7 linked regions of the Homo sapiens genome follow. The protein of the gene in region 3 purifies or fractionates together with the protein of the main gene of each other region. This does not show direct contact. Each region holds a gene or a part of one and is shown on either strand. Other genes may lie near its edges. The genes, in order: EFNA5, PLIN3, FLVCR2, RPIA, PAG1, TMEM63B and PFAS.

What was found.
Region 1: the proteins of FLVCR2 (region 3) and EFNA5 purify together in Homo sapiens (affinity purification with mass spectrometry; one large-scale study listed by BioGRID and IntAct). This does not show direct contact.
Region 2: the proteins of FLVCR2 (region 3) and PLIN3 fractionate together in Homo sapiens (co-fractionation; one large-scale study listed by BioGRID). This does not show direct contact.
Region 4: the proteins of FLVCR2 (region 3) and RPIA fractionate together in Homo sapiens (co-fractionation; one large-scale study listed by BioGRID). This does not show direct contact.
Region 5: the proteins of FLVCR2 (region 3) and PAG1 purify together in Homo sapiens (affinity purification with mass spectrometry; one large-scale study listed by BioGRID and IntAct). This does not show direct contact.
Region 6: the proteins of FLVCR2 (region 3) and TMEM63B purify together in Homo sapiens (affinity purification with mass spectrometry; one large-scale study listed by BioGRID and IntAct). This does not show direct contact.
Region 7: the proteins of FLVCR2 (region 3) and PFAS fractionate together in Homo sapiens (co-fractionation; one large-scale study listed by BioGRID). This does not show direct contact.

What each region holds. Positions count from the first base shown.
Region 1 is NC_000005.10:107,380,938-107,384,437, forward strand, and holds part of EFNA5 (ephrin-A5 isoform 1 precursor), read right to left. Parts: intron 440-3,500; coding exon 318-439; 3' UTR 1-317. UniProt on the Homo sapiens protein: Cell surface GPI-bound ligand for Eph receptors, a family of receptor tyrosine kinases which are crucial for migration, repulsion and adhesion during neuronal, vascular and epithelial development.
Region 2 is NC_000019.10:4,850,357-4,854,662, forward strand, and holds part of PLIN3 (perilipin-3), read right to left. Parts: intron 1,946-4,306; coding exon 1,660-1,945; intron 1-1,659. UniProt on the Homo sapiens protein: Structural component of lipid droplets, which is required for the formation and maintenance of lipid storage droplets. Required for the transport of mannose 6-phosphate receptors (MPR) from endosomes to the trans-Golgi network.
Region 3 is NC_000014.9:75,637,126-75,641,431, reverse strand, and holds part of FLVCR2 (choline/ethanolamine transporter FLVCR2), read right to left. Parts: intron 2,081-4,306; coding exon 1,970-2,080; intron 478-1,969; coding exon 372-477; intron 251-371; coding exon 139-250; intron 1-138. UniProt on the Homo sapiens protein: Choline uniporter that specifically mediates choline uptake at the blood-brain-barrier. Responsible for the majority of choline uptake across the blood-brain-barrier from the circulation into the brain.
Region 4 is NC_000002.12:88,690,221-88,694,472, reverse strand, and holds the start of RPIA (ribose-5-phosphate isomerase), read right to left. Parts: upstream 2,801-4,252; 5' UTR 2,775-2,800; coding exon 2,490-2,774; intron 1-2,489. UniProt on the Homo sapiens protein: Catalyzes the reversible conversion of ribose-5-phosphate to ribulose 5-phosphate and participates in the first step of the non-oxidative branch of the pentose phosphate pathway.
Region 5 is NC_000008.11:80,975,736-80,980,041, forward strand, and holds part of PAG1 (phosphoprotein associated with glycosphingolipid-enriched microdomains 1), read right to left. Parts: intron 1,172-4,306; coding exon 809-1,171; 3' UTR 1-808. UniProt on the Homo sapiens protein: Negatively regulates TCR (T-cell antigen receptor)-mediated signaling in T-cells and FCER1 (high affinity immunoglobulin epsilon receptor)-mediated signaling in mast cells.
Region 6 is NC_000006.12:44,151,041-44,154,079, reverse strand, and holds part of TMEM63B (mechanosensitive cation channel TMEM63B), read right to left. Parts: intron 2,235-3,039; coding exon 2,072-2,234; intron 1,488-2,071; coding exon 1,382-1,487; intron 405-1,381; coding exon 237-404; exon of another isoform or gene 103-236; intron 8-102; coding exon 1-7. UniProt on the Homo sapiens protein: Mechanosensitive cation channel with low conductance and high activation threshold. Osmosensitive cation channel preferentially activated by hypotonic stress.
Region 7 is NC_000017.11:8,262,343-8,266,648, forward strand, and holds part of PFAS (phosphoribosylformylglycinamidine synthase), read left to right. Parts: intron 1-577; coding exon 578-651; intron 652-766; coding exon 767-923; intron 924-1,232; coding exon 1,233-1,294; intron 1,295-1,432; coding exon 1,433-1,594; intron 1,595-1,869; coding exon 1,870-1,995; intron 1,996-2,127; coding exon 2,128-2,259; intron 2,260-2,552; coding exon 2,553-2,783; intron 2,784-2,945; coding exon 2,946-3,126; intron 3,127-3,213; coding exon 3,214-3,297; intron 3,298-3,519; coding exon 3,520-3,675; intron 3,676-3,891; coding exon 3,892-4,011; intron 4,012-4,158; coding exon of another isoform or gene 4,159-4,181; exon of another isoform or gene 4,182-4,306. UniProt on the Homo sapiens protein: Phosphoribosylformylglycinamidine synthase involved in the purines biosynthetic pathway. Catalyzes the ATP-dependent conversion of formylglycinamide ribonucleotide (FGAR) and glutamine to yield formylglycinamidine ribonucleotide (FGAM) and glutamate.

The sequences.
Region 1 (3,500 bases), on a different chromosome or scaffold from region 3:
TGCACAGGAGCTGACGAACCACTGGTGTCACTATGACAATTTGGCATTTTCATCTGGAGTCCATTTAATTTGGGAGGGGTGAGAGAAGCCAAGGGCCAGGGCTGGGGGTGGGGCGGGGTGGGGTGAGGGAGGCAGGAACAAGTTTAGGCCCCCAACCTGAAGTTGTTGCTTAGAATTCAGGCTGAAAGAAAGAAAACAAAAATCTGACATCTGCCAAAACCCAATAACAAGTCCCTTCTTAGGATGAGCAGTTAGGTGGATCTCTGGTGTTCCAAGACCCTGATGTTTTCTGTGACAAGTGATGGGAGGAGACTGTGCTATAATGTCAAAAGCATCGCCAGGAGGAACAGTAGGATTGCCAAAAGGCGGCTGGGTATCCTTGGTGTTTGTGCCGCGTTCTCGCCGCGGGATGGCTCGGCTGACTCATGTACGGTGTCATCTGTTCAAATAGAAAGCACACATTCCAATGAGATTTCACATCCTTAATAACTCTCTTGCAGCAGCCTGCTGTTAACAGACCTCGCCACCCTCTGCAAAGTAGGGTAATGAACCTTGTGCCACCATTGACTTTCATGTCTGCATAATCACTCATTATTTACAGCAAACAAAGAAGAGGCAAAGAAAATTGGACTTTCTCAGCAATATTAATACTTTCCTTAAAAATTGAGGGGAAAAATTATGCATACACCGTAACCTTTGGCCTGTGAGCTGCTTTGGTTAGCCAGCAGTCAGACACGCCTTGCACAAATTTCAGATATCTGAATGTACCTTTGAAACCTAAGATGTCACAGGCAAGCAAGTGACATGTTGGTGGGGGTGGGGGAAGGGGCAGTTATGTTGGCACAGTAGTGGTTAACCAGAATGCGCTGCCCATTTCCCTTCTTTTAGCTGTTTCATAGGATTAGTGTTGAATGCCTGGTTGTTGGATGCCTAGACGAATTTTCAAACATGAAAAACTAAATGCCAAAACAGCAGCATTTTGGATAAACTATACATCATGCCTAGTAAACTTCAATAAACGTATGCCCACTAGTTTGCCTGCAATTAGGTGTCAATTATGGTGCTATTTCTATTACAAACCCTGTATTTCTAAGATTAAATTACTTGAACTTGACTATTTTTATTTTTATCGGGCTGAAGCTTGGCACATAAATTATCAGCGTGGATGCAAATTTTCCTCTAAATAAAATAGATTAAGTGAGTTAAGCTTCTTTTATTTAGCTATAAAGTGTTCTATGAGGCTGCCTCTGACTTTGGATAGCCTTCCTGATCTGCATGATTAACAGGCTTAACTTCCAAATGGGAACTCTGAAGCAATTAGTACCAAAGAGAGGTTGGAGGCTTGCCTAGGAGCCAAGCTCTGCTCCAGGGCTGCCTGTCTTCTTCTTTCCACCTGACCTAACTTATGCTTTTATTTACTTTTAATTAAGTTAAATTAATTAATATTTTTTTAGAGGTAAGGTCTTGCTCTGTTGCTCAGGCTGGAGTACAGTGGCCCAATCATAGCTCACTATAGTCTTGACCTCCTGGGCTCAAGCAATCCTCCTGCCTCAACCTCCCGAGTAGCTGGGACTCCAGGTGTGAACCACGATGCCTGGCTAATTTTAAGAATTTTTAGAGAGACAGGGTTTTCCTTTGCTTCCCAGGCTAGTCTCAAACTCAGCCTCAACCAACTTCCTCCCTTGGCCTCCCAAAGGATTGGGATTATAGACATGAGCCACTATACCTGGCCACTTGTGCTTTTAGACTAAGGATCTCTGAATAACACATTTTGGGGGCCAATAGTGAGCCCCTGTGCAAATTTTATCTCAGCATCAGGGTAACTTCCTGCAGGTGTTCAGCAGTTGCCATCTGGGAATTGCTCAAGGGCCAGACAGAATGGTAACAAGGCTCTAGTGGTTGTTCTCAATTATACTGACCTCAAAGGATAATCCCTAAATACCCCTGGATGACCCACCTCAAACCCCTTAATGGGTTAACTAACCATTATTTTAAACTCATTTGTATTTTCCTACCACACGTGTCACAATAAGGGTGCTTTTCCTTCACTGGGTAGAATCACACTCGCTAATATTTGTCCTAAAGTAACCACTTTTCAGGTTCACAGGCTGACCCCTGCTTCAGATATGCTCGTTTGGGATGGTTTTGTCCATCACATCCATTCCCAATGAGAAAGGTCTTCTCAGTGTTGAGTCTCCTGACCTGGAGTGCTCTTACCATTTTAGCCTCCCCTCGAATAAAAGCTACTGCATCCCCTTGTCAAATGTGCTCCCCTTTCCTGGACCTTAGCGAATCTGCATGGAGTGATTTTAGCTTAGGAGACTAGAAAAGGTTAGGAAGCAAGATGGTAAGATAAATGGATGCAGAAAAAATATATATAAAGTCCTCCACAATGTGGCCAAGTACCTTCAGACCCTCTTCTATTCTCTGCTCTTTTTCAGCCTTGCAAGTGTATTAATTAAATCTGTAGTTAATAGGAAGTAGAAGTAAAGGCCCTTAATAGCCCTGAAATTAAAATCCAAATCACTTTCTTAAGAGCACCAATATGTTGTCAATCAAAACAATGGAGCACTTCAGGCTTAACTGTGAAATAACCACAAACCCTGAGGATTCCAGAGTTCATTTCACAATATCACATACTTAAACACCTGAAATTGCATCAGCTATTGGATTCCTCTCCATCTTATTTTTACTAGCATATTACCCAATCCTTCTCCTTGTATAGCTTGCAAGTGTACTGTTAAAGGTACCCAGCTAGCACTTAGATCTTCGGTGTGAACCCCTTCATCACCACCCTAGTCCCTTCTAGGTACTCAGTGAGGGCTATCCATTATTCCAGGTCCACTCAGCACAAGACACAAGGAATAGATCTTACAAGGTAATGGAGAGGAAGGCTTTTGTTTTTCATCTAAGTGAAGTATGAGGCTAAGTGTGACTTTCAGTCCTTTAACCATACACAATCTTTGGAATTAACCTTTTATAAGCACCCAACGAATATATATCTTCCTGCCCCCCAAAAGGAAATCAGTCCCATTAGGGCATCAGGATCCTTCTCTTCTTCCTGCAACATGCTGTTCCTCATTCAGGATTCCACAAAGCATCCTTTGATTAAAACAGGTTCTCAATGTTGGAAGATTCTACAGCCCCCAAATGTGAAATGAGAAACTGGCTGTCATTTGGGTAAATCTGAGCAATTTCAGAATTCTAAGGAGGAATTCATAGGTAAAATCTATCCCAATGGAAACTACACCTAAACATGAGAGAATTTCTAACGCTTGTAACACAGGCTTGGAAGAAGAAAGAAAACGTTCCTCTTCAGAAGTCAAATCAAGTTTTGCCTCCTGGCTACAGGATTCCACAACATGGGGGTTTCAATGGTTAACGGAGAGAACACTAGCGATATTTTGGAGCATGTTATGTGGCATATGTCTGCCCTGAGATCATCCTGCATCCCTGATGATAGGAAACTGGCAGGCAGAGTGTGCAAGCAAACAAAAAAG
Region 2 (4,306 bases), on a different chromosome or scaffold from region 3:
ACCTCTGCCTCCCAAGTAGCTGGGATTACAGACGCCTGCCACCGCACCTGGCTAATGTTTATTTTATTATTATTATTTTTTTGAGACGGCGTCTAGCTCTATTGCCCAGGCTGGAGTGGAGTGGCATGATCTCGGCTCACTGCAAGCTCCGCCTCCCAGGTTCATGCCATTCTCCTGCCTCAGTCTCCCGAGTAGCTGGGACTACAGGCACCCGCCACCACGCCCGGCTAATTTTTTTTTTTTTTTTTTTTTTTTTTTTAGTAGAGATGGGGTTTCACTGTGTTAGCCAGGATGGTCTCGATCTCCTGAACCTGTGATCCGCCCGGCCTTGGCCTCCCAAAGTGCTGGGATTACAGGCGTGACCCACCGTGCCCGGCCTAATTTTTGTATTTTTAGTAGAGACCGGGTTTCACCATGTTGGCCAGGCTTGTCTCAAACTCTTGACTTCAGGTGATCTGCCCACCTCGGCCCACCAAAGTGCTGGGATTACAGGCTGAGCCACCGCGCCCTGCCTATATCCTAAGCTACTTATTTGCAAAAATCCCAATCCCCGCACTTTGGGGGGCTAAAGCAGTAGGATCACTCCAGCCAAGGAGTTCTGGATCAGCTGGGATGACAGAGGGAGACCCCGTCTTTACCAAAAATTAAATAAAGAAAAATTAGTTGGGCGTGATGGTGTGTGCTTGTAGTCCCAGCTACTCGGAGGCTGAGATGGGAGGCTCGCCTCAACCCAGGAGTTGGAGGCTGCATTGAGCTATGATCGCACCACTGCACTTCAGCCTGGGCAAGAGAGTGAGACTCTATCTCTAAAACAAATAAATAAAAAAGGGCCGGGCATGGTGGCTCACACCTGTAATCCCAGTACTTGGGGAGGCCGAGGTGGGCAGATCACAAGGTCAGGAGTTCGAGACCAGCCTGGCCAACATAGTGAAACCCCGTTTCTACTAAAAATACAAAAAATTAGCTGTGTGGTGGCAGGTGCCTGTAATCCCAGCTACTCAGGAGGATGAGGCAGGAGACTCGCTTGAACCCAGGAGGCAGAGGTTGCAGTGAGCTGAGATCACGCCATTGCACTCCAGCCTAGGTGACAGGGCGAGACTCTGTCTCTAAATAAATAAATAAATTAATTAAAGAAGAATATCAAATAAACAGTGCAGGGAGTGCGAATATGTGACCGAGATGACTGGAGTGGGATGTCTGGCCTGGCGGGAACACCAGCATTGTTGTCACAGTTCAGTGAGATCTCAAGTTTAGTCACGTATTTATGCAGGAGCGGAGTGGCGAAGGGGGAAGAGGAGGAGGGCGGGGAGAGGACAGGGGAGGTTGTGCAGGACCTTGTGGGCTGTGACGAGGACTTGGGCTTTGACCCCAGGGGAGGTGGGGTCCATGGAGGGCTGTGGGCAGAGGGACGGGTTCTGACTCAGGTGGTCACAGGCGCCCTCTGGTGGCTGCTGTGGGGAGGAGACTGTGGTGGATGAGGGCGGGAGCTGGTGAGCAGGACAGAGGGGACTGCGTTAGTGATGAGATTCCAAGATGCCCGGGAGAAGTGGCAGGGACGAGGCGGCAGTGAGTGTCGGCACAGACCCCAGGAGGCCGACAGCGGCTTCCGGTCAGGGGGCCTGGGGAGGGGTCCCAGAGCAGCCCGCTGGCCACACTTACCCAGTTCGGCATCCGTAAGGGGCAGGTGGTTGTCCGCCCACTCCTCCGACTTCCCCAGCACCGTGTCGACCCCACTCAACACCATCTGGCCCAAGCGGGAGCCCATGACCGATTGGACGCCGCCGGTCACTACGGACTTTGTCTTGTCCACGCCGCTCTGCACAGCACCGCGGGTCGCGTCCACCGCCTCCGACAATTGGGTGGCCACCGTGTCCTTGGCGCTAGACACCATCTCTTGGGCCCCCGACACCTTAGACGACACAAGCTCCTTGGTGTCCGCCAGGACCTAGGAGATGCAACAGCATCAGCATCTCTGCCTTCCCTCCATATCTGGGCACCCCTCCCCTGCACCCCAACTTCCAGGGAGACCGAGGCGGGGAGCGCCATCCCCCGGGTGACCCCAGCATCTCCGTCTTCCCTCTGTATGTGGGCACCCCTCCCCTGCACCCCAACTTCCAGGGAGACTGAGGCAGGGAGCGCCATCCCCCAGGTGACCCTGAGTCTGGAGTTGTGGGCATGACCTCATACTCTGCAGCCAGACTACCTAGGCTCCGTTCCTAGCTAGCTACTTCTCAGCTGTGTGGCTTCAGGAAAGTCACTCTACCTCCCTGTACCTCATTTCTTTCTTTCTTTTTTTTTTTTGGAGACAGGGTCTTGCTCTCTTGCCCAGGCTGGAGTGCAGTGACACCATCTCAGATCACTGCAACCTCTGTCTCCCGGGTTCAAGCAGTTCTCCTGCCTCAGCCTCCGAAGCAGCTGGGATTACAGGTGCCCGCCACCATGCCTGGCTAATTGTTTTTTGTTGTTGCTGTTGTTGAGATGGAGTTTCACTCTCGTTGCCCAGGCTGGAGTGCAATTGTGTGATCTCGGCTCACTGTAACCTCCGCCTCCTGGGTTCAAGCGATTCTCCTGCCTCAGCCTCCCGAGTAGCTGGGATTACAGGCATGCGCCACCACGCCAGGCTAATTTTGTATTTTTAGTAGAGATGGGGTTTCACCATGTTGGTCAGGCTGGTCTCAAACTCCTGACCTAGTGATCCGCCCACCTCAGCCTCCCAAAGTGCTAGGATTACAGGCATGAGCCACTGCACTCTGCCTGTTTTTTGTTTTTTTTTTTCAATTTAATTTTTTTTCTTTTGAGATGGAGTCTCCCTCTGTCACCCAGGTGGAGTGCGGTGGCACAATCTCGGCTCACTACAAACTCCACCTCCTGGGCTCAAGTGAGCCTCCCACCTCAGCTTCCCCAGCGAGTAGCTGTGACCACAGGCACGTACCACCACTCGTGGCTATTTTTTATCTTTTATTTTTATTTATTTATTAATTTTTTTGAGGCGGAGTTTCACTCTTGTTGCCCAGGCTAGAGTGCAATGGTGCAATCTCGATTCACTGCAACCTCTGCCACGTGGGTTCAGGTGATTCTCCTGCCTCAGCCTCCCAAGTAGCTGGGATTACAAGCACATGCCACCATGCCGAGCCGATTTTTGTATTTTTAGTAGAGACGGGTTTCACCATGTTGGCCAGGCTGGTCTTGAACTCCTGACATCAGGGGATCCACTTGCCTGGGCCTCCCAAAGTGCTGGGATTACAAGCATGAGCCACTGCGCCCAGCCTTATTTTTTATTTTTTGTAGAGACAAAAAATACAAAAAATTAGCCGGGTGCAGTGGTGCATGTCTGTAATCCTTACTACTCAAGAGGCTGAGGCGGGAGAATCCCTTGAACCCGGGAGGTGGAGTTTGCAGTGAGCCGAGACTGCACCACTGCACTCCACCCTGGGTGACAGAGAGAGACTCTGTCTCCAAAAAAAAACAAAAACAAACAAACAAAAAAAAGCTTTGCATGGAATCCTTTGACTACGCCCCACCCAGCACATGGTGAGCGCTCATCTGTCAATACCTGCTGTTCTCGAATCTAAGTCTTTTTTTTTTTTTTCTTTTGAGACAGGGTCTCACTGTGTCACTCAGGCTGGAGTGCAGTGGTGCAATCATAGCTTACTCAAGCCTTGACCTCTTCGGCTCCAGCGATCCTCCCACCTCAGCCTCCCAAGTAGCTGAGACTACAGGTACGCACCACCACACCCGGCTTATTTTTTTATTTTTTGTAGAGACAAGGACTCTCCATGTTGCCCAGGCTGGTTTCGAACTCCTGGCCTCAAGCAGTCCTCCTGCTTTGGCCTCCCAAAGTGCTGGGATGACCGACATGAGCCACTGTGTCCAGCTGAAGCTAAGTCTTTAGACAGATCTCTATGCAGAGGGCTCTCCGCAAAGTTGAAAACCACACCTGCCCCATTCCTACCCAAGTTGGTGCTTCCCTGAAGACTCAGTCCTCTTGTACTCATGAGAGTTCATCTTTTTGTGGGGGAAGAGGGTGTGAGAGTCAAGTTTTTTGTTTTTGTTTTTGTTTTTTTTTACAGAGTTTTTGCTCTTGTCACCCAGGCTGGAGTGCAGTGGCACTATCTCGGCTCACCGCAACCTCCACCTCCCAGGTTCAAGCGGTTCTCCTGCCTCAGCCTCCCCAGCAGCTGGGACTACAGGCGTGCACTGCCACGGCCGGCTAATTTTTTGTATTTTTAGTAGAGACGGGGTTTCACTGTGTGAGCCAGCATGAGCCAACGCCCCCGATGAGAGTCAGGTTCTAACAGCCCCACTA
Region 3 (4,306 bases):
GCTGCCTCCCAACAGATTCCCCAACAAACCCTTCCATCTGTCCCCCTACGTACGTACTCCCTATCTGTTGCTCCATCGAGACACTAGGGTCCCAAATGGCCAACCTGAGCCTCATCTTGCCCTCAGGCTCCAACTCACCAGTGAGGGCTGCTCCAAGAGTAAGGAACACACACAGGAAGATGTTCCCAGGCTTGGTTCCATAGTTGTCAATAATCTGGCCCTGGGAGATGGTAAAGATGATCCCAAATACCTGGAAAGGCATAAAGAAGATAGGAAACAAGGGCCCAGTCAACTAACTCATGAGGAAGAACTGAGCTGCCATGATGCAATGCCTTCCCAGCCAGGAAACAAACAGGAAATACGAGCTCTACCTGTGCAGATATGTTGAGGAGGCCGGAGGAGATGCCTTCTGATTCTGGGTACGTGAGCTCCACAGCAAACTCAAATCCCAGTGGGAGATAGCCAGTCATAAAGAAGCTGAAGACCAGACCAGAGAAACAAGGGGATGAAGAACTTCCAGAACAAGAAGGATGGGGAGCCCACCTCCTCCCCTAGGACTCCCTTTGCTGTTTTGTTTCTTCCCACCAAGACATACTAGGCCCTCTAATGATCTGGGCATCCTCTATGTGATCATACCAAGGAGACGGGCACCCCTGAAGGCCAGGAAGAAGTTCACAGGGAGACCTTGTGCTCAGCAGGCCTCTGGGATCCCTTGCTGCTTCTCCATCTTGCCATCAGTGACAGCCAGTCAGCATTTACAGAAGGGGCAAGGATGCCTGGTGTGTTCAACCTTCAGCTGAGAGACTATGTCCTGGGTACACAGGCCCTGTGCTGGGAGTGGGAACTTCCTGGATATTGAGCAGGATCTCCGTGGCTCTCTGGGACCTGGAAGGAGGAGCTTAGAGTCCTCCTTATTTCCATCCAGAGAGGAACCAGCTGAGGACTGAGTGCCAGCACATGCTCTCTCCCTCTTTCTCTCTTTCACATGCACATACAGACACACACACACACACACACACACACACAAACACTCATATACTGCCCATAGGAAAATAACTGGGAAGCAGAGCTGAACAAAGACTCCTGTGAAAGAGGTATTGTTTCCTATGTTTTCTCATACAACAGGTCTAGAAAATTCCAACTTTAATTTCTCCTTTTTTTTTTTTTTTTTTTGAGACGGAGTCTCACTCTGTCTCCCAGGCTGGAGTGCAGTAGTTCGATCTTGGCTCACTGCAACTTCCGCCTCCCAGGTGCCAGCGATTCTCCTGCCTCAGCCTCCCAAGTAGCTGGGACTACAGGTGTGTGCCACCATGCCTGGCTGATTTTTGTATTTTTTAGTAGAGACGCGGTATCACCATATTGGCCAGGCTGGTCTTGAACTCCTGACCTTGTGATCTGCCTGCCTTGGACTCCCAAAGTGCTGGGATTACAGGCGTTAAGCCACCGCACCCGGCAACTTTAATTTCTTACATTTTCACAATGCTTCTTGATGCTTTCATATCTATTATCTTTCTCAATCTGTCCAACAACTTGACAAGGCAGGCCACTATTATCTTTCTTTACAGATGAGGAAATTGAGGCTCAGAATGGTTAAGTGCTGTGCCCATGGTCTAACAGGTAGGCAGCAGCAAAACTGAGACCAGGACCCAGAGTCTCTGGTTCCAAGCCCTGTGTACTTTCCACAATCCCATGTTGTCCAGGCAAAACTGAAAAAGACTCTGAACAGGTTCTAGCCTCCAAGAGGTCGCGAAGGGTGTGCTTCATGCTTCATTCCATCCCAAAAGAACAGACAGCCCAGGCTGCCTTTGGAAGTACTACAAGTATTACCGAGACCCCTGGGCACCATGTCCATATCTCCTGAGGTCAGTTAGAAGGCAGCAAAGGCATCAATATTGCATTCTAGGATGCTGGAAGCTCTGGGAGCCATGGCATGGTATTTTCTAATAAATCAGCCAGAGGTGAAACTTACCCCATTGTGCCAGCAGTGATGAACACTACCCACAGGTGTCCCAGGTTCAAGGTAAACGTGTACACCACCATGCCCACCAGTGTCATGATATAGACTACCAGGGTTGTCTCTCTACAAGTAGAGGCAAAGAAATTGAATCAAACACTTCTGACTTTAATAGGCTCATTCATTCATTTATTCCACAAGCATCTATTAAGTATCTGCCGCATGTCAAGCCCTCTGCTATGTTCTTGGAGTTTTGTTTTGTTTTCAGAGACAGTGTCTTGCTCTGTTGCCCAGGCTGGAGTGCAGTGGCGTGATCACAGCTCGCTGAAACCTCTACCTCCTGGGCTCCAGCAATTCTTGTGCCTCAGCCTGCTGAGTAGCTGGGACAGTTGTGCGCATCACGCCTGGCTAATTTTTGTATTTTTCATAGAGACGGTGTTTTGCCGTGTTGGCCAGGCTGGTATCGAACTCCTGACCTCAAGTGCTCCACCTGCCTTGGCCTGCTAAAGTGCTGGGATTACAGGCCTTACAAAGCCAAGGCCTGGCCTTGTTCTTGGACATTTTCTTTCATAGAACTTTCTCTCCATGAGGGTGATGGACACTGACAGATGATGATCACACAAAAAAATTATTTAATTACATCATGATCAATGCTACAAAGGGTAAGTAAGACTAGTAAAGTATGAAGCCATCTTACGATATCTTTGTTCCCTTTCTGTAGAACCCACTCAACAATATCAATCTGCCCCTTGACTTGTCATGTCCTAGCCACAGACAAGAAGGGCAAAGCCCTTTCTCCTTCTCCCATCCCTCACCAGAAAAAAGAAAAAACAGGACAAACATCAGCCATGATGAGGTGGCGGTGACATTCAGGACTACCCCAGAAGCTGTCCAATTCTGCTTGTCTGCTTTATCCCAAGACCCATGACAATGCTGGGCAATGTGCTCTGTCACCTACAAGTTCTTCCTGTCCCTACTTGAACAGACCAACAGACCCAGCAAAGCTTTTTCTTTTCTTTTTTTTCTTTTGTCCTTTTTTTGAGATGGAGTTTCGCTCTTGTCGCACAGGCTGGGGTGCAGTGGCGTGATCTCAGCTCACTGCAACCTCTGCCTCCCGGGTTCAAGCGATTCTTCTGCCTCAGCCTCCCAAGTAGCTGAGATTACAGGCATGCGCCACCATACGTGGCTAATTTTTTGTATTTCTAGTAGAGATGGGGTTTCGCCATGTTGGCCAGGCTGGTCTCAAACTCCTGACCTCAGGTGATCTGCCCGCCTTGGCCTCCCAAAGTGTTCTAATTAGAGGTGTGAGCCACTGCGCCTGGCCCAGCAAAGCTTTTTCTGTTGAGTCTGAACTACTCCACTCCAGAGAGCAGGAACTAAGAGAGAATATTCTCTCAGCCTGAACTGAGTGCTTGACTTCCAAAGCCAATGTGAGAAACCTTCTCTATCTTCGCCCACTCCCTGTTACATTTCCCTGTGTCGATCCCCTCAGGAGTACCATCAGCAAGTCTTGGTTTCTATTTCAGTCTCACCCCCTCCTGTGCCCCTCCAGCAGTTCTCTTCCCATGTTGCCCACCTAGGACTCTGATGCAGCCCCGACTCCTGCAATTCGACCTGCATTCTTCTCCCTGCACTACCTAAGGCAGGGCATAGGCACTGCACATCCCTCTGCCCCCCTACCATGAACATCAGGACTCAGATGATGAAAGCTTTAAAGCTTTTCTTTTCTTTCTTTTTTTTTTTTTTTTTGAGATGGAGTCTTGCTCTGTCACCCAGGCTGGAGTGCAGTGGCACGATCTCTGCTCACTGCAAGCTCCGCCTCCCAGGTTCACCATTCTCCTGCCTCAGCCTCCCAAGCAGCTGGGACTACAGGGGCCCGCCACCACGCCTGGCTAATGTTTTTTGTAGTTTGTTTAGTAGAGACAGGGTTTCACTGTGTTAGCCAGGGTGGTCTCGATCTCCTGACCTCATGATCTGCCCGCCTCCGCCTCCCAAAGTGCTGGGATTACAGGCGTGAGCCACCGCACCTGGCCAAAATCTTTAAAGCTTTTCTTTACACATCACCCCTGAAGCCAGAATCATGGTGGAGGCACCAAATGGCACGCTACGGTTGTGTCAAACGAAACCCTCCATCTCTTGAGTGCCAGATTCTGTGAAGCACTTCACATGCATTTATTATTTCAATTCAACCTTTACAAAAATCCTGTAAGAAATATCTGATGATTTCTCATTTTACCAATGAAGAAACTGAAGCTCAGGCCACTCAAGTTACTTGTCCAAAGTCACCAGCTGAATAAATGCAGAGCTGAGATGTGAACTCAAAGCTGGATTTGAAACCTGTGTCCCTTCTGC
Region 4 (4,252 bases), on a different chromosome or scaffold from region 3:
CTCTAGCTTTACAGTAATTCAATCACCAAATTCCTGGTTACCAAGCTTAGCCATACATTCATGTCACTCACAGTCCCCAGCAGGCAGGTGGCACAGAGGTGAATTCGGATGAATCAGACAAGCTCTGTATAAGGCTCGTTCTTTGCCTTTTGAAAGAGACCAGGAATTGCAAGGCCCTGCCAGACCTAAAGCTCTTCACCCATGTGATCCCTGCTGCCTTGGAATCAAATGACTGGCCCAGGAAATCAGTGCCCTTGCCAAAGCCAACCAGAGGTGACCAAAGGCTGCCTATGAGGTGGCCCAACAGCAGAAGACTGCCAAGCAGGCCCTGCTAGAGGAGTGGCCCCATTCTAATGGGCAATATTAAACCACATGTATGTGCAACATCAGAACTTCACTCAGCTTGTCGAATGGAGTAACTTTGGAAATACTACTTCTGCTAACCAACTAGAACCACTGCCCATCAGCTTCCTCAACCAAGCTAGTAAAAAAACAAAGCCCAGGCTCCAAAGAGAACAAAGGGATGAGGCTACAGACATTCAGAAGAGCCTAGTTCTGCATGTCGACCCATCCTGGGTGGCTACACCCACAGAAACAGACAGAGCTGGGCCCAAGGTGGCTATACAAAGGATTCACCTGAGAACTCTCCATGTTTTCCATCCACTCAGACACGGAAGTGGTCACCATATTGGAACTCCAATGGACTAGAGAACAGGAAGCCCTACTCCCCAGAGATTCTACACAAAGAACCTCCAATAACCCCAACACTTTCGTATTTGTGTCCACACTGCACACAATTGAACAAACATGTACTGGGCAGGACCCACTGTGACCAATGCTAAATGAAGGTTAACTACCCTCCAGGAGCTTACCCTTTAAGGGGCTGGAAGAAACGAACACACAGATGACCAAAACATGAGATACAACATAAAGCACATAAGAGGCATGAAGTGCTACAGAATCACGGAAGAGAAATCTTCCTCTCCTTAGGATGCTAAGGAAAAACTGAAAGGAGGAAATGGCCTTTAAGCCAAACCCTGAAGGGCATATATGATTTTAACAGGTGCCCCCAAAAGGTCACTGTAGATCTCCCCAAAATTACCTAACTTCATGAAATGATGTGGTCAGAATCCAGTGTTTTGGGGCTCTAGCCTAAGGTCAGGGCTTGCAGATTTTTATTTAATCAAATACATGACTATAACACAAAGGTCAGGGAGATGCGCCACCAAATATTAATGTAAATTCATTAACAGGACAACTTAGATATGGGGCTTTTCTAATTGTATTCTCATGTGGATTACATTTATCTATTAGCTATTCACTGTATGCAGATATTTTGAAATTTCAGCTTATTGTCTCAATTTTACAACGGAGGCACTGAATCCCAAAGGTAGGGTCAAATTAACACATTTTACATTATCTCTGTTAATCCCCATAGAAAATCCTATTGCCAATCAGACTTACAACAAGCTACACCAGAACAGGGTAGCAGTGGAAAGAGTAGAAGGTCACACTGGAACATCCCTTCTACAGAACTGGCTGAGCCACAGGTTACCACATTGTCCACTCCCACTCAAACAGGCTGTGGTGAAGCTCATCCAACATCATCTAAGCAAAATAATTTTGTAAAGCATTAACAAATGTAAAGAACTATTATCGGAGAAGAAAAGAGACTCTAATACCACTTTCTAATAAGTAGAAACGAGAGATAAAAAGCCAATAAGACCAAGGAAACTACACCACAGGGCAGACATACTCCACTTGGCTTCCTTATTATAATTAAGATACTTGATTGGTGACAGCAAAACCACTTGGATTAAAAAAACTCCACTAACAGCACCACACCTGCCACTTAACAAACAAGTAGGGACCACGACCTGACTGAATAACAGCTAAACATCTCTGCAGACCCGCCTTAAAAAATAAACCAGCATCCTCCAGACTTAGTCCACCCAGCCCTATGGAAAGAAGGAAGTTTGAAGCCCCGGGTCTTCCCTTCCCTCCAAGAGTACACTCAGGGGCCGGCGCGCACCAAGCCCAGAACCTCCTTCGACTGAAATTTCAAAGCACTAGCAAACCAACTCTCCGCCGGCTTCCGGGTCAGTAAAGAGAAATGAAAACCTCTCCGCAGCCCCAAAGCCCACCATTTTCCATTTATTGATAAGGAGGCCACAAGGCAAGTGCCTCTAGCCCCCATTCCAAACATCAGACAGCACCAGGCTCCACTTTGCAAACTGTTCCAGCTGGACAAGGAGTCTTTAGAAAGCTCAAGTATTAGAAGATTCGCCCCCAACCGATTCCACATCTAAAAGGTCTTTAAGGAGCAGGGAAGAGGGGTCTAAACTCGGGTAAAGTGCACACCCTCTACCCTCTCACTCAGCTCCCGCCCTGCCAGGAGCTAGGCGCGCCCCGGCAGCACCCACAACGCGCAACAGTAGCCCATCACGCCAAGGACATGCGCCCCGCGCCCCACGTTTCGAAGTGCTCACCCTCACGTGGTTCTCCACAGCCGCGCGGCCCGCCAGCTTCTTGGCCTCCTCGGCCTTGGACATCGTGGAGGGGGCCGGGCAGATGCTGTTGGAGTCCCCGCAGCTGGTGCTTGTGTTGCCAGCACCGCCACGGGTCCCAGACTGTGCACGCCCCGGCAGCCGCACGTGGGAACCCGGGAGGTCCCAGCTGTTCCCTCCTCCGCCGGAGGCCGCGCCCCCGGCCCTCCCGGGCAGCGGGGCCAAGACCCGCCCGTAGAGGGTGCTGAAGGGCCCGGGGCGCTGCATCCCGACGCCTCGCTCCGGCCTCCGCTGAAGTCCCGCCCCCGGCTCCCCCGGAAATCTGGTCGCTTACGCACACAGTCTGCGTGCCCTGCTGCGCGGGTCTTGCTGGGAAATGTAGTTCTGTGGCTTCGAGGAACCCCTATCTGCGCCTCAGTCTGGACTACCAATCCCATAATGCTCTCCGCGACGGAATGCGCAATCGCCGGCGACGGGCTCCGGCACTTCGCTCTGTGAAGTACCATTAGCCGCGGGAATATCAGTATGGTGACTCCTTACCCTGGGGAAGTGTACTTAGGCCACGGCTAGGTGAAGCCCAGGGATATTTCTGTTCGCCCATGCATCCGAGAAAGGAGTGTTAGACCTGACCCTGTTGTTTCTCCCAGCAGTGAGAACGTGGCCATGGACAAGAATTCCAAGTAGTGGCACTTCTGTAGACGACGCGGCCCTTTTGGGGTTACTACAGCCCAGGAAACTCACATGCGACACGGCGCCAGCTGAAGTCCATCTAGACCCCCGCAGACCCAAGGTCACAAGTTGAGAACCCCCTGCCGTGGACATTCTTCTGCACCTAGTGGTGAAGCAGGTGGAGCTGCACCTTGCTCCGCCCATTTGGAGACTGGTTCTGCACATATGAGTGTGCCCTGCAGCGATCCTGCAATCCTTCGTGACTAACAAGGACTTTCTGTGAAAACAGATTTATCTTTTCTTCTCTACCTTTAAGGTTTCTTGCTGTTGAGAATAGTTAAGGGACGAGGAATTCTTATTGCCCCCATTTTACAGGCAAAGAAACTAATGCTGACCCCAACCTTACCGACCACTTGGAGGTCCCTAAAAACACATGACCTTTGTGTTTCTCGGCTGTTAGTGGAATCCTTTCTGTCTGCTCATGAACTCATCTTCAAACGCATTCCAGGCCTTCAGAACTCTTCCGTGAGCGCAAGTCACTGGTATGGGCCACTGTTAACTGCCGGTTATCACCTAGATTTTCTTAACTATGCTTTGCCCTCTGAGGCCGTGAGCTCTTGAATCTTCACCTTAGTCTGTAGGAGGAAAAGTTGTTTGAGATGATATTTGAATCCTTCATTTTAGGCCAAATTCAGAACATAGCAAAAGGTTCTGGCTAACATGCAGAACAGTATGTCTGGACTCCCACTACTGTTGGTCTGCAAAGTTGAAGGCTACTCTAGGCAAATATGTCACCTTTAATGTATCTCCTTAGGAGGAGTCTTTCACCTTATTCATGCTCCTCAGCACCCACACCAAAAGATTCATGAAGTAAATGTTACCTAGTCTCTGCTTTACCCCATTACCCCCGGCCTGAGGACCTTTGAACCATTTTAAATGCTCTACCTGCCAGCCTGGCCATCTGTGCATTGCTTGCTCCATCCACCCTTCTGACTCAGCTGAAATACCACCTTCCCAAAGAAGTCTAAGTGACCACCTCATCTAAATTGGGTTTCCTGCCCACCCCTCCTCTATCA
Region 5 (4,306 bases), on a different chromosome or scaffold from region 3:
GAAAATACTGAAAAGATTCGGACGAGTTTTCAAACACTGGGGGAAACACGTTTTTGACTAGAAAAATAAAATAAAGCATCTAAAACTGACTTCAAGTACTTTGGGGAGAGGCTGCTGATATCGAATGCCAAAATAAGAAGGAACAAAGACAGAAGAGACTCCAGGGACGTCCCTCCCCATCCCTTCACCCGCAGGGTCCAGATCCCCAGGTGCTGATGCGCAACTCTTTGGGGAGGACTGGCGAGCTGGGCAGAAAGCAGCAGCCATGGTTTGTCACCATCCTAAAACACCTATATTGAGGGCAAAGGCCAAGCTTTGTGTGAAAATTTCCTTGGGATGAACCACAGGAATCTGGACATTTCAAGGGGGAAAAAGCCTTAAAGTCAGTAGCAGACAGAGAAAAGGAAAGAGAGGAAGAAAAACCTGCTTTTCTGAATGGCAGTACTTTAGGCCGGGGGCATTGTGGTCCTTGGTGAGTGCAGCTTTTCCATACAGCTTGGCTTTCCTCACTAATGAGATGAGACCACTGACAGCTGGGATCTTTTGTGGGTGGTGAGGGTGCAGCAGGGAGATGTGCTTGGGTGTACCTGTCCATCTGGCAGGCAGGGGCACACTCAGGTGCAGCCTAGTCCGTACCTCTCTGTCTCAGAAACTGAACAACTGGGAGAACAGTCGACAGGGCCTCTCCAACCATCTTCAGGTGACTAAAGCAGCATATGAAGTATAGGTTTGTGTCACTTCTTCTCTTCCACAGAAGAAACGTCTCCAGACACTGATCACAGGCTACCCAGGGTTGTCTTCTGGGTTGCTAGAGCCTGGTAATATCTCTGCCTTGCTGCAAGTCACTTATGCTCTCGTAGTCGTTCTCCTTTGGGACGAGACCGTGGTGGCCATTGGTCCCCAGGGTGGCCTTTTCTTCCTCTCTGTTGAGAGTCTGTATCGCTTCATAATCAGGCTCTGGCTCCTCGCTGGGCCTCCCTGCTGGTGGAAGTGTGCTGTTTGGAGTTTTTTCGAAGTCTTTAACAGTAGCATAGAGATCATTACAGGAGGAGGGTGACCTCTGTGGGTCCCCTTGAATGGAGGTGTAGGTGGACTCCGGAACTGTAAGCGACTGCCCCGATTTATTCACTAACTGTCCAGGTTTATTTACTGATGAGTACATAGCTGAGATCTAGGAGACAAAGGGAGAGTTGAATAAACTTCCAGCTGTGACTTCCCCCTCCCTCTTTTTAGTGACAAGCTACATACTGAGCACTCCTGGGTTTCTGTGTGTGTACTCCTTAAAGATTTGTTCTTTCTTATCTGTACTAATTATGGAGCACATTACTAGAGAATAATTACACACACTATCTTCAACTATGTTAACTAGATCAGTCATATTCCCTTAATTCCGTGAAAACCCAGTTCTCTTGGGTCTGCCGAGGAATTTGAGGAGAGGTGGAGTGGGAAGCTCCTGAAGGCCCCGGGGACCTGACCACAGCATGTGTTTTATTTCATTTCTTTATCAGAATGATATTTTGCCTGAAAAGGGGCTCCACTGCTTTACAAAAAAGGACAGAAAACACATAGTAGACCGGTGATTCTCAAAGTGTGGGCTGTAAACCAGCAGCAACAGGATCTGGGAATTTGTCAGAAAGGCAAGTTCTCAGGCCTCATCCCAGAACCACCAAATCAGAACCTCGGGGCTGGGGCCCAGCAACCGGTGCTGATTCTGATGGCCAGTAAAGTATAAGAACTCTGAATTAGACTACTCCATGCTTCCTGCATCACAGTGGTCTCCAACACCCGTTGCTGGATTCTCGTTGGTGGTACACATATATCTGAAAGGGTATTCCTGTCCATTATTTCTTGACTTAGTTGCGTATTACTGGTTAAACAGACATTGACAGTCCAGGTCTAGTTTTCTTCAGTGGGAAAACTCATTCTCGCTTGCAACCAGCCAAGTCAGAAATGACAACTTACAGGATACTATTAAGAGCCAGTGGCTTTCCAAGCACACCCCCACAGTCTCACTAATAAATCCTGTATCACCTCCGATATCAACAGGGATTTCATTCATTGTGAAGATTAAATATACTAATTAGGAGACTTTTGGGGAGTATTATTTTATTGTGAAAAATCACGGTTGGAAATAAGTAAAAATACCCTTCATTACCTGTGTTTATTTTTATCACAGTGATTTGATTCATTCAAATACCCAGGAAATACATGAACATGCTTCCTCACAGATGCCTGGCTTCCCAAGGGCTGAGGGACATTTTCCTGCTTCCACTTTTCTCACATACTGCAGGTGAAGTTTCCAGCTTCTTAAGACAGGCCTGTCTTAAGACAGGCCTTCTTATGTCTCAAAAGCTTCTTAAGACAGGCCTGCCACATGCTAACTGGTCATTTGCATGAGAACTTTTCATTACAGGCTGGTGGCTGGCTCAGTTTGGTGAGGCCTTGACAATCCAAGGGTTTACAGTTCAGAAAAACAGTCTTTGGAAAACTCTTACTATGTTGATCTGACTATCCTAATGAATATGAAATGATTAACATTCTCACCTTAGAGGTTTTAATGAAAAAACTGCTCTCAGAATACAAGAATTATAATTTCTTTGAATTTAATAAAAAAAATTCACTGCTGTTTATAAGGAAGTGCAAACACAGAATGTATTATCTAAATGGTGGTCCAAGCCAAAAATTATATGTGGACAGATTATAAAAAGGTAAACAATGGATGACAATGGTGAGGGGAGACGGCATACCAGCGTATTCATCACCTGGTAACATCAAGGAGGACAAATGTACCTTGACCTAGATTGTAACAATGAGAGTCAGCCCCTCACCACCGTTAGCTTCTCTCCTCAGCTTTCTTCCCCCTGGTCTTTGTAATTAATGCCCCTCACTCTTTGTAAGAGTACTTGGTCTTCTTGGCCTTTGTCCTCATTCATTAACTTGCAATTTAATATTGACTCTGGGAATGAACCTAGTGTGCAGAGGGTCTCACTGTACATTTCAACTTTTATAAAAGCTTCTTGAGTCTTCTCATATTCCTTTTGACTGTTTTCTATGACCATTATGACTATTATTTTTATTTTGTATACAGGTTTCTCTTCCAGCCCCCTTGCTATTTAGCTTCTCAATTTTTCTCTTTAAAACTTTCATCATTATTCCTCAGTCTGTAAATTGTTGCTATATTCCCATAAGTTACTCTCTTCCTTTTCCCCATTTCTCTTCTTTTTCTAATCAATCCTTTCCATAACATTCTGTTAAATTGGGGTAATAGAACTTAAAGCTCAGATCTCAGCTTCAGTCTGGACTGTTTAACATTAAATTACATAAATACAAAAAAAACTTTCATATTTATTTTTCCTCTTTGTCCTAAAATGAATGTCTGTGAGTCATAGTTCTGTCATGTTAAAAATTCATCAGTATAACTAGGTCCTGTTTCAAAAAATACAAACAAATGTAAGATAAGGAGCAATTTAAAATTTTACATAGTCTTTAATTCCCAGAACTCCTATATATTTTACCTTCTTGTCCCAGATGGGATCACTTTGGCTGCAGAGTAGAAAACAGAGTGGAGGGAGGCCAAGGAGCTGCCAGGGATCAGCAGGAGGGGACTGCTCTGGCCTAGGGAGGGGCGGCCGCAGTGGGCTTGAGGGAGGTGGGTACACAAAGAAAACAGTTTGGAGGTGCAACTGATGGGTCTTGGCAATTGACTGTGTTGGAGGACAGTGAGGAAAAGGAAGTATCGAGATGACCCCTAGGTTTTGGTCTGTGCAACCAGATAGACAGATGGCAGGTCCATTCTGGAGGTAGAAACATGGACGAGGGTGGGCAATATCACCTAGGGAAAGCATTTTTGCTCTTTGAACATTCAACGTGGGTGTCTATGTCCATATTCTAATGCTTTACTCAGAGTCCTATAGGAAGTGATGTACCTGCATATGTACTTTGCTCTTGTACATGTACACAATTTACTCTGCTAGGAATTCCAGATAGAAGCTATATACAGCTAGATCAATTAAGGTGTTTAGCTCTCTGAGCATAGCTCAACATTTATATATATACATATGAAATATGTATATATACACATATTTCATATTATATGTATAATACTGGCTTTAACAATTTTAATGCTTCATTGAAAATCTAACTCGTGAATTTTGCACCCTGGTGCTTGGGAATATGCGATCTGCTCTTGTTGGCTGCTATGTCTGACCCTAGCTCCTGCCTGGAACTGTACTTACTGAAGTTAATCTGCTCTCAGCATCCAAATTTCCCCACGGAGACTTCCTCTTTCTGTCTCCCAGGCTGGAGC
Region 6 (3,039 bases), on a different chromosome or scaffold from region 3:
AGGAACCCTGGTGTTGGGGGGCAAAGAATGGGGTTGCTATCTCCTGTGGGCCTCCCCACCCCAGCTTCTGATACCCTCTGAATGCAGTCCTCACTCTCCCAGGTGCTACAGACTGGCCCCAGCCTCTCCCAGGCCCCTTGCCTGCCACCCCCAGCCATGCGGCTTCTCCTGTGGCCTGCTCTGGCTGGAATCCACTCTGCTCGCCACCCCCCGTTCCCTGGGTAGGGATCCCTCACCCGTGCGCATGGTGGAAAAGAAGAGCAGCCAGAAGAGGCAGAGGATGGGCGCGGCCACCACCTGGTTCACAGCCCCCGAGTGGATCTTCTTGTCCAGCTTGGCCGGCAGGTAGGCGTAGTAGAGATTGTACCTGTCTACCAGGTGCTTCAGCAGCATGTACATGAGCCCTAAGGGAAGCCACATGGGCCCTGACCTCGGAACCAGTGCTGCCGAACCTTTTGTGTGTCTGTCACAGGTTGTTCTGGTCCTGAGAGTGCTGAAGGGTTGGCCCCCTCCTCCTGCCCGGGCCCCAGGACGGGATAGTGCCCCGTGCCCCAGCGTGATCACAGAACTTCAGCTTCCTCCGCTACAACCCCTCATTCTACTCTCCTCATCAGGAATTCTACTATTGGAAATCTAGTCATTTGAATCAACAAGCATCTTCTTAAAACCCGTATCATTTTTCTCTAACCCTGTCCCTAAACAGATACGTATAAATTAAGGGACAAGTTCTATTTCCCCAGAGGCTGAGGGATAGGGAGTTTCTAATGAGGACAAGGAAGTTAGTTTGGGAACTTGGAGCCTTCAATAACCAGGGAGGGTTGGTTAAGGAGTTAGGATGTTATTAGGGAGGAAAGTAGAGGCTACCAGTGGGGGTGATGGTTAAAGAGAAACTTTGCTAAACTTCAAAAAGGAAGAGAGACCTGGCCAAGTCACATAGCTCAGATACAGCAGACTATCTCCATGAGTGGCAAGGACCCATCCCACCCTGGAATCCAAGTCTTTCCTGAGTTTACAGGGTGGTGTAAAAGTGTGCACATGGATGCCTGTGTGGGAGTGTGTGTGTGAACATGTCAGCACGTATGTGATCTGTGTCCAAGCACATCCCGCTGAGGGAAGGCACAGGTGTGGGTAAGTATGGCCATGTTGGTGTGACTTTGCCCTGGGGCCCACATGCCAGCTGGGTCTGGCCTGAGCTGATGGCTCTCCCCCTCCTCCCCACAGGCCAGGCCCCAGACTGAGCCAGGGACCGGGCGGGAGCCCCGAGGGGCCGGTCTCCCAGCCGGGCCCTGTCCACTCGGGGTGGCCTGCATTCCTAGAGTGGAGAGGGTGAAGTCCTGGGTCCCCCCGAGCAGGGCCCAGGTCCCGGCGCGGCGGTGCCTACCGAAGGGCACGATGATGGGGCAGGTGATACTGTAGGTCATGACCACCGTGAAGACGCACATCATCCAGGCGTAGGCTGCGCCAAACTGGAACTCGTAGGCCTGATGCTGGGGGGGAGACGGGCAGGAGGATGGCTCAGGGAGGCAGGGACTGACCAGAGGGGCAGGGAAGGAGGGAGGGGGAAGGGAGCCAGGACCTCTGGGGCCGGAAAAGAAGCCATGGGGAACAGGACCTAATGTCTAGGGTAGGGTAGGGCAGAGCAGATGGAGAGAGGGGCTATGGCCGAGAGGAGGGTCAGGGCGGTTGCAGTGATGGGGCACGGAGAGGGGCCTTCAAGGGTCGGGGCCTGGCAGGTAGGGGGCAAGAGTTGGGTGGACTTGAGAGTGGGATGCCCAGAGCCCTCTTATTAAGACAGAGGGACCCTAGCGCTAGGGACCCAGATCTCCCCAACTCCCATCATAGAATGCTACTGTCAGAACTGGCAGGGGCCTTCAGGGTTACCTATGTCCACCCATGGCAGAATACGAAGGCCCCAGATATGGGAAGGGGATGGCCCGGATCCACCGTGAGTCAACTGTACTCCCCAAGTCTCAGCCCTCCTGTGCCCCTCAACCCTAGCGCGATGGCTGCTGTTTCTTGTTGGGCCACCAGGGGGCGCTGTGCGGGCCGCTGCTGCCCCAGGCGGCCGTACCCGCTTCACGTTGCGCCTCTCGGCGGCCGAGCGCGCCAGGCAGAGCCGGATCATGTACATGAGCAGGCCTGGGATGCGCAGCAGGTCCATGGCGTTGCCGATAAAGGCTGAGGCAATGACGTAGTTCACGAAGAAGGCGCCGTTGTCGGGCAGGAACACACACCTGCGGGCACCAGGTGCTCCAGCACTGCACCCTTGGGGTGACCCGGTGGCCGCCCGCCCACTGCCAGAACTACAGCACCCAACACCTCCACCACCAACATGCTTCTTCCATGTGGACACCCCCAGCTTAGCGCCCCAAGCACCTGTGCCCTGTTCCCCCCAGAGACATACAGAGTGGCAACAGACAGCTCCAAGAACTTGTGCCCCATAAAGACCCATGGAGAGAGTGCTCAAGACCACCTAAGGCTGCTAGAATGTTCAGGGGAGAACTGTCCAGGACCCCCAAAGACAACCCAATGAGACCCTCAAAGAACCCAAAGGCTGACAGCCCCAGGAACACCCAGAAGATTCCCCCACTTAGACCATAACTCGAGTTACCCCCAGAGTGTGACATGAGCCTCAGATACCTCCACAAACAAGCTTTGAGACCCTTCCCGCAACATCTCTGGGGGAGCCCAGGAACCTTTATCAGTGCCTGAGATGCCCCAAGTGTGACTCAAAGATCACCACAGATGGCCTACAGCAAAACCCCTAGAGTTTGTGCCCACAGCCATGGTGCATGACCTTCAATATATCCTCACATGATTCCCAGAGAAGATGCCCATACAGAACTCCACAGTTACATCTCTGAATAAAAGCCTGAAATTTTAGAGATGTTCCCAGAACTTGTACTGCTAAACATCCCAAAGTGTGAGTCCTTTAGCCTCCCCGCCCACAGACACCCCCAGAGTTATAAGGTCAAGAGCCTCCTACACATACCCAAAAATATGGGCTCTAGAGACCTTCAGGGATACCCCTAGTAGCCT
Region 7 (4,306 bases), on a different chromosome or scaffold from region 3:
AGGTGATTTTATACCTGTGCAAATAAATCAGCGGGATGACTTCCTCAAAGTGTATTTACCCAATCAGAGACTGTGTGCATTTGTCATTTTGGTTGTTATTGCCAAATCGTCCTCCGTAGTTGATATCAGTTTACTCTCCTATCAACCCAGTCAAGTGGTAAGGCTTCTGGGCTAGGCAGGGTGGCTCACGACTGTAATCCCAACACTTTGGGAGGCCGAGGTGGGCGGATCACCTGAGGTCAGGAGTTTGAGACCAGCCTGGCCAAGATGGTGAAACCCTGTCTCTACTGAAAAAATACAAAAATTAGCCGGGCACGATAGCAGGCGCCTGTAGTCCCAGCTACTCAGGAGGCTGAGGCAGGAATATCGCTTGAACCCAGGAGACGGAGGTTGCAGTGAGCTGAGATCACACCACTGTACTTCAGCCTGGACAACAGAGCGAGACTCCATCTCAAAAAAAAAAAAGCTGGTCAGGCTTCTCCCTAACATCAGCTTCCTCTGTGTTCACGCTGCCTTGCTTTCGAGGCCTCTTCTCGTGGCTTCCCCAGTGTTCTGATTCTGCCTTCCCTTCTTACAGGCATGGAAGTTGTAAAGGTTGGAGGTCCCGTCTACAGGATTGGAGTTGGAGGTGGAGCTGCTTCATCTGTGCAGGTGAGTGGGAATTGCTAAAGGTGCAGAATCCTTGATATAACCGGGCCCCAGGCATAGGGGAGCGTATAGGAGCTTCCAGTCTCGCTGAGCTGAGCTATGCCATATATGCCCCCAGGTGCAGGGAGATAACACCAGTGACCTGGACTTTGGGGCTGTGCAGCGAGGAGACCCGGAGATGGAACAGAAGATGAACCGTGTGATCAGGGCTTGTGTGGAGGCCCCCAAGGGAAACCCCATCTGCAGCCTTCATGATCAGGGCGCTGGTGGCAATGGTGAGGAAAGGAGTTGGAACAAGAGACTGGGCCTGCCTGGTATCCTGCCAGGTTTCGTTTAGGGAGAGGTATCAGGAATCTCCAACCAACCACCCAGCTCTGGGTCCCATTCTCCATGCTCTGTACATTCTAGACAGGTTCAGGGTTGGAAGGGTGGAAGCCTGCTGCCGTGGGATGATTGGTGGTAAGGGTGCGGCAGCAGTTGACACAGGAACACACCAAATTACAGGCCCCTTTGGAGGCCAGGGACTGCCCTTTGTTGCCTGACCACCACTAGGTCACTGCTTCTCCTTGCAACCCTCTCACCAGGCAATGTCCTAAAAGAGCTGAGTGACCCAGCTGGAGCCATCATTTACACCAGCCGCTTCCAGGTGGGTCTCGTCCCCTGAAGTGTGACATTTTCCCACCCCTGCCAGCCCCAGCCCGCTTCCACCCATCTCTCTTGCAACAACATGAGACGTGGGAGTGCCCACTGGCCCTTCTCTTTCCTCCCCGCCGTGGCTGTGCAGCTTGGGGACCCAACCCTGAATGCCCTGGAAATCTGGGGGGCTGAGTACCAGGAATCAAATGCTCTTCTGCTGAGGTCCCCCAACCGGGACTTCCTGACTCATGTCAGTGCCCGTGAACGTTGCCCGGCTTGCTTCGTGGGCACCATCACTGGAGACCGGAGAGTGAGTTGGCCCAGGGAGTTGGGAGCAAACACTGGGGCAGACATGAGCCACCTGGGTATGGGCTAGAGGGAGAGCTGTCAAGGGAGAGAGACGAGAGGAAGATGGGAGGTAGTGGCAAACAAGCTGTGGGGAATGTTGGATCCAAGGAGGGGCAGGGACTCAATATGGAAACCAAACAAGGAGTGGAAAGCACATTTGTGCCCTGATTTCTAGGAACATTCCTTGCTGGTGTTCATAGTCTCATCCCCTCTGGGTGGGGTCCCTGTGGTCTATAGATAGTGCTGGTGGACGATCGGGAGTGTCCTGTCAGAAGAAATGGCCAGGGGGATGCCCCCCCGACACCCCTGCCAACCCCTGTGGACCTGGAGCTCGAATGGGTGCTGGGCAAGATGCCTCGGAAGGTATGTGGGGTTGAGGGGATGGGTTTTTCCTGTGGTCCTCTCCACACCACCCTTTACCCTACGTGCACTTTGTCGCCTGTGTGCCCAGCCCGCCCCAGGTGTTCACACTGCCTGTCGCTGTCTGTGTTGCAGGAGTTCTTCCTGCAGAGGAAGCCCCCCATGCTGCAGCCTCTGGCCTTGCCCCCAGGGCTGAGCGTGCACCAGGCTCTGGAGAGGGTTCTGAGGCTGCCCGCCGTGGCCAGCAAGCGCTACCTCACCAATAAGGTCCTCCCTGCACCCTTCCTCTGCCCCCTGCCTCCTTCCTCCGCTCAGCCTCTTCTGCCCTCCCACCCTTAGAAAGTGCTGTGGGGGTTTTTGCCTGGCCCTGCAGGAAGCAGCAGGGGCAGGGCAGCCACCCTGATGGCCTGGTCTCCCTGCTACCCACCTTCTAAGTAGAGCTGTTGTCTGCATTGGGGGAAAGACAGGCCTCCCACTGCCCTGAGTGCCTTGGGGGCATGTGCGGGAGCTCAGGCTGTCCCTGTCCCTTGCTCTCTTGCTAACCCCACCTGGTTCCACAGGTGGACCGCTCTGTGGGAGGCCTGGTGGCCCAGCAGCAGTGCGTGGGGCCCCTGCAAACTCCTCTGGCAGATGTAGCGGTTGTGGCACTGAGCCATGAGGAGCTCATAGGGGCTGCCACAGCCTTGGGAGAACAGCCAGTCAAGAGCCTGCTGGACCCAAAAGTCGCCGCCCGGCTGGCCGTGGCCGAAGCCCTCACCAACCTGGTGTTTGCTCTGGTCACTGACCTCCGGGTGAGTTCTCCCACAGCTTCTATCCTGGAGCCCCCGGGCTTCAGGACCCTTCCACATCCATCTGTAGCCCTTCATTTCATGTTGCAACCTCCCAGTCCGCCTGCACCCCTGGCCTCTCCACATTTCTCTTCCCCTCTAATGCTGTGCCTCTGCCACCCCCAGGATGTGAAGTGTAGCGGGAACTGGATGTGGGCAGCCAAGCTCCCAGGGGAGGGCGCAGCTTTGGCGGATGCCTGTGAGGCTATGGTGGCAGTGATGGCAGCCCTGGGTGTGGCAGTGGATGGTGGCAAGGACTCCCTCAGCATGGCTGCTCGGGTTGGCACTGAGACCGTGCGGGCTCCTGGTGAGGTGTGGGAGCCCCAGGGAGGGGAGGAGGAACTATGGAGCTGGGTTGGCAACTCATTCCTTTGGACTCCTCCTTGCTCTACAGGGTCACTGGTCATCTCAGCCTATGCCGTCTGCCCAGACATCACAGCCACTGTGACCCCAGACCTCAAGCATCCTGAAGGGAGAGGTATGGACATGGCCCCATCCTTTGTGATCTTTGCTTGTGTGATCTTTGTTTGGCTCCTGCTTTGTGAGTGCTGGGCCCCCATCTCAACACTGGGCTGTGGTGTTTTCTGGGACTGATTGTCTAGGTGTCTCACCACATGCTGGGAATAGCAGTGCTGTGAGCCCCTCAGGGATGGGTCCTCCTGAGCTGTTCCCCTCCCCTCACCCCTCCCCGTCTCCCCAGGCCATCTGCTCTATGTGGCTCTGAGCCCTGGGCAGCACCGGCTCGGGGGCACAGCTCTGGCCCAGTGCTTCTCCCAGCTTGGGGAACACCCTCCAGACCTGGACCTTCCTGAGAACTTGGTGCGGGCCTTCAGCATCACTCAGGGGCTGCTGAAAGGTGAGTGAAGACCCCTGGGGAGATAGCGCACAGGGTGCCAGGCGTGCAGCAGGCGTTCACCATCTGAGCAGTGGGGCAAAAGGGACTCCAATGGACGATGTACCCCAGATCCCCTGACATTCTGACACACACTCTTGATGGACTGACTCCGGAAGGTGGGGTGGGGCTGTCAGGTTTGGGTCCCGAGGTTGCTGAGCTTTCTTCTCCTTCCTCCAGACCGCCTCCTCTGCTCAGGCCACGATGTCAGTGACGGAGGCCTCGTCACATGCCTGCTGGAGATGGCCTTTGCTGGAAATTGCGGGCTACAGGTGGATGTGCCTGTCCCCAGGGTTGATGGTAAGGAACCTGGGGTCTAGTCTCAGGCCCGGGCTGCCTTCTCTACCCTGCAGACCCCATTTCCAATATATTAAAGAGTGGAGTGCCCTCCAGTCCCCTTTCCCTGAGTCTTCCCTGACTAGCTTTTCTGTGCTGTCTCTCTGACAGCTGAACTGGATGGAACTGGCTGACACCCACCATGTTCCTGACTGCACCCCTCTGAGACTTCCCATCCCTGAGATGTCCATGATGAAACATCCTCAGTCCTGCCGTCCTAGCCCTCATCCTCCCTGATCCCTACCCTACTCTCTGGCTG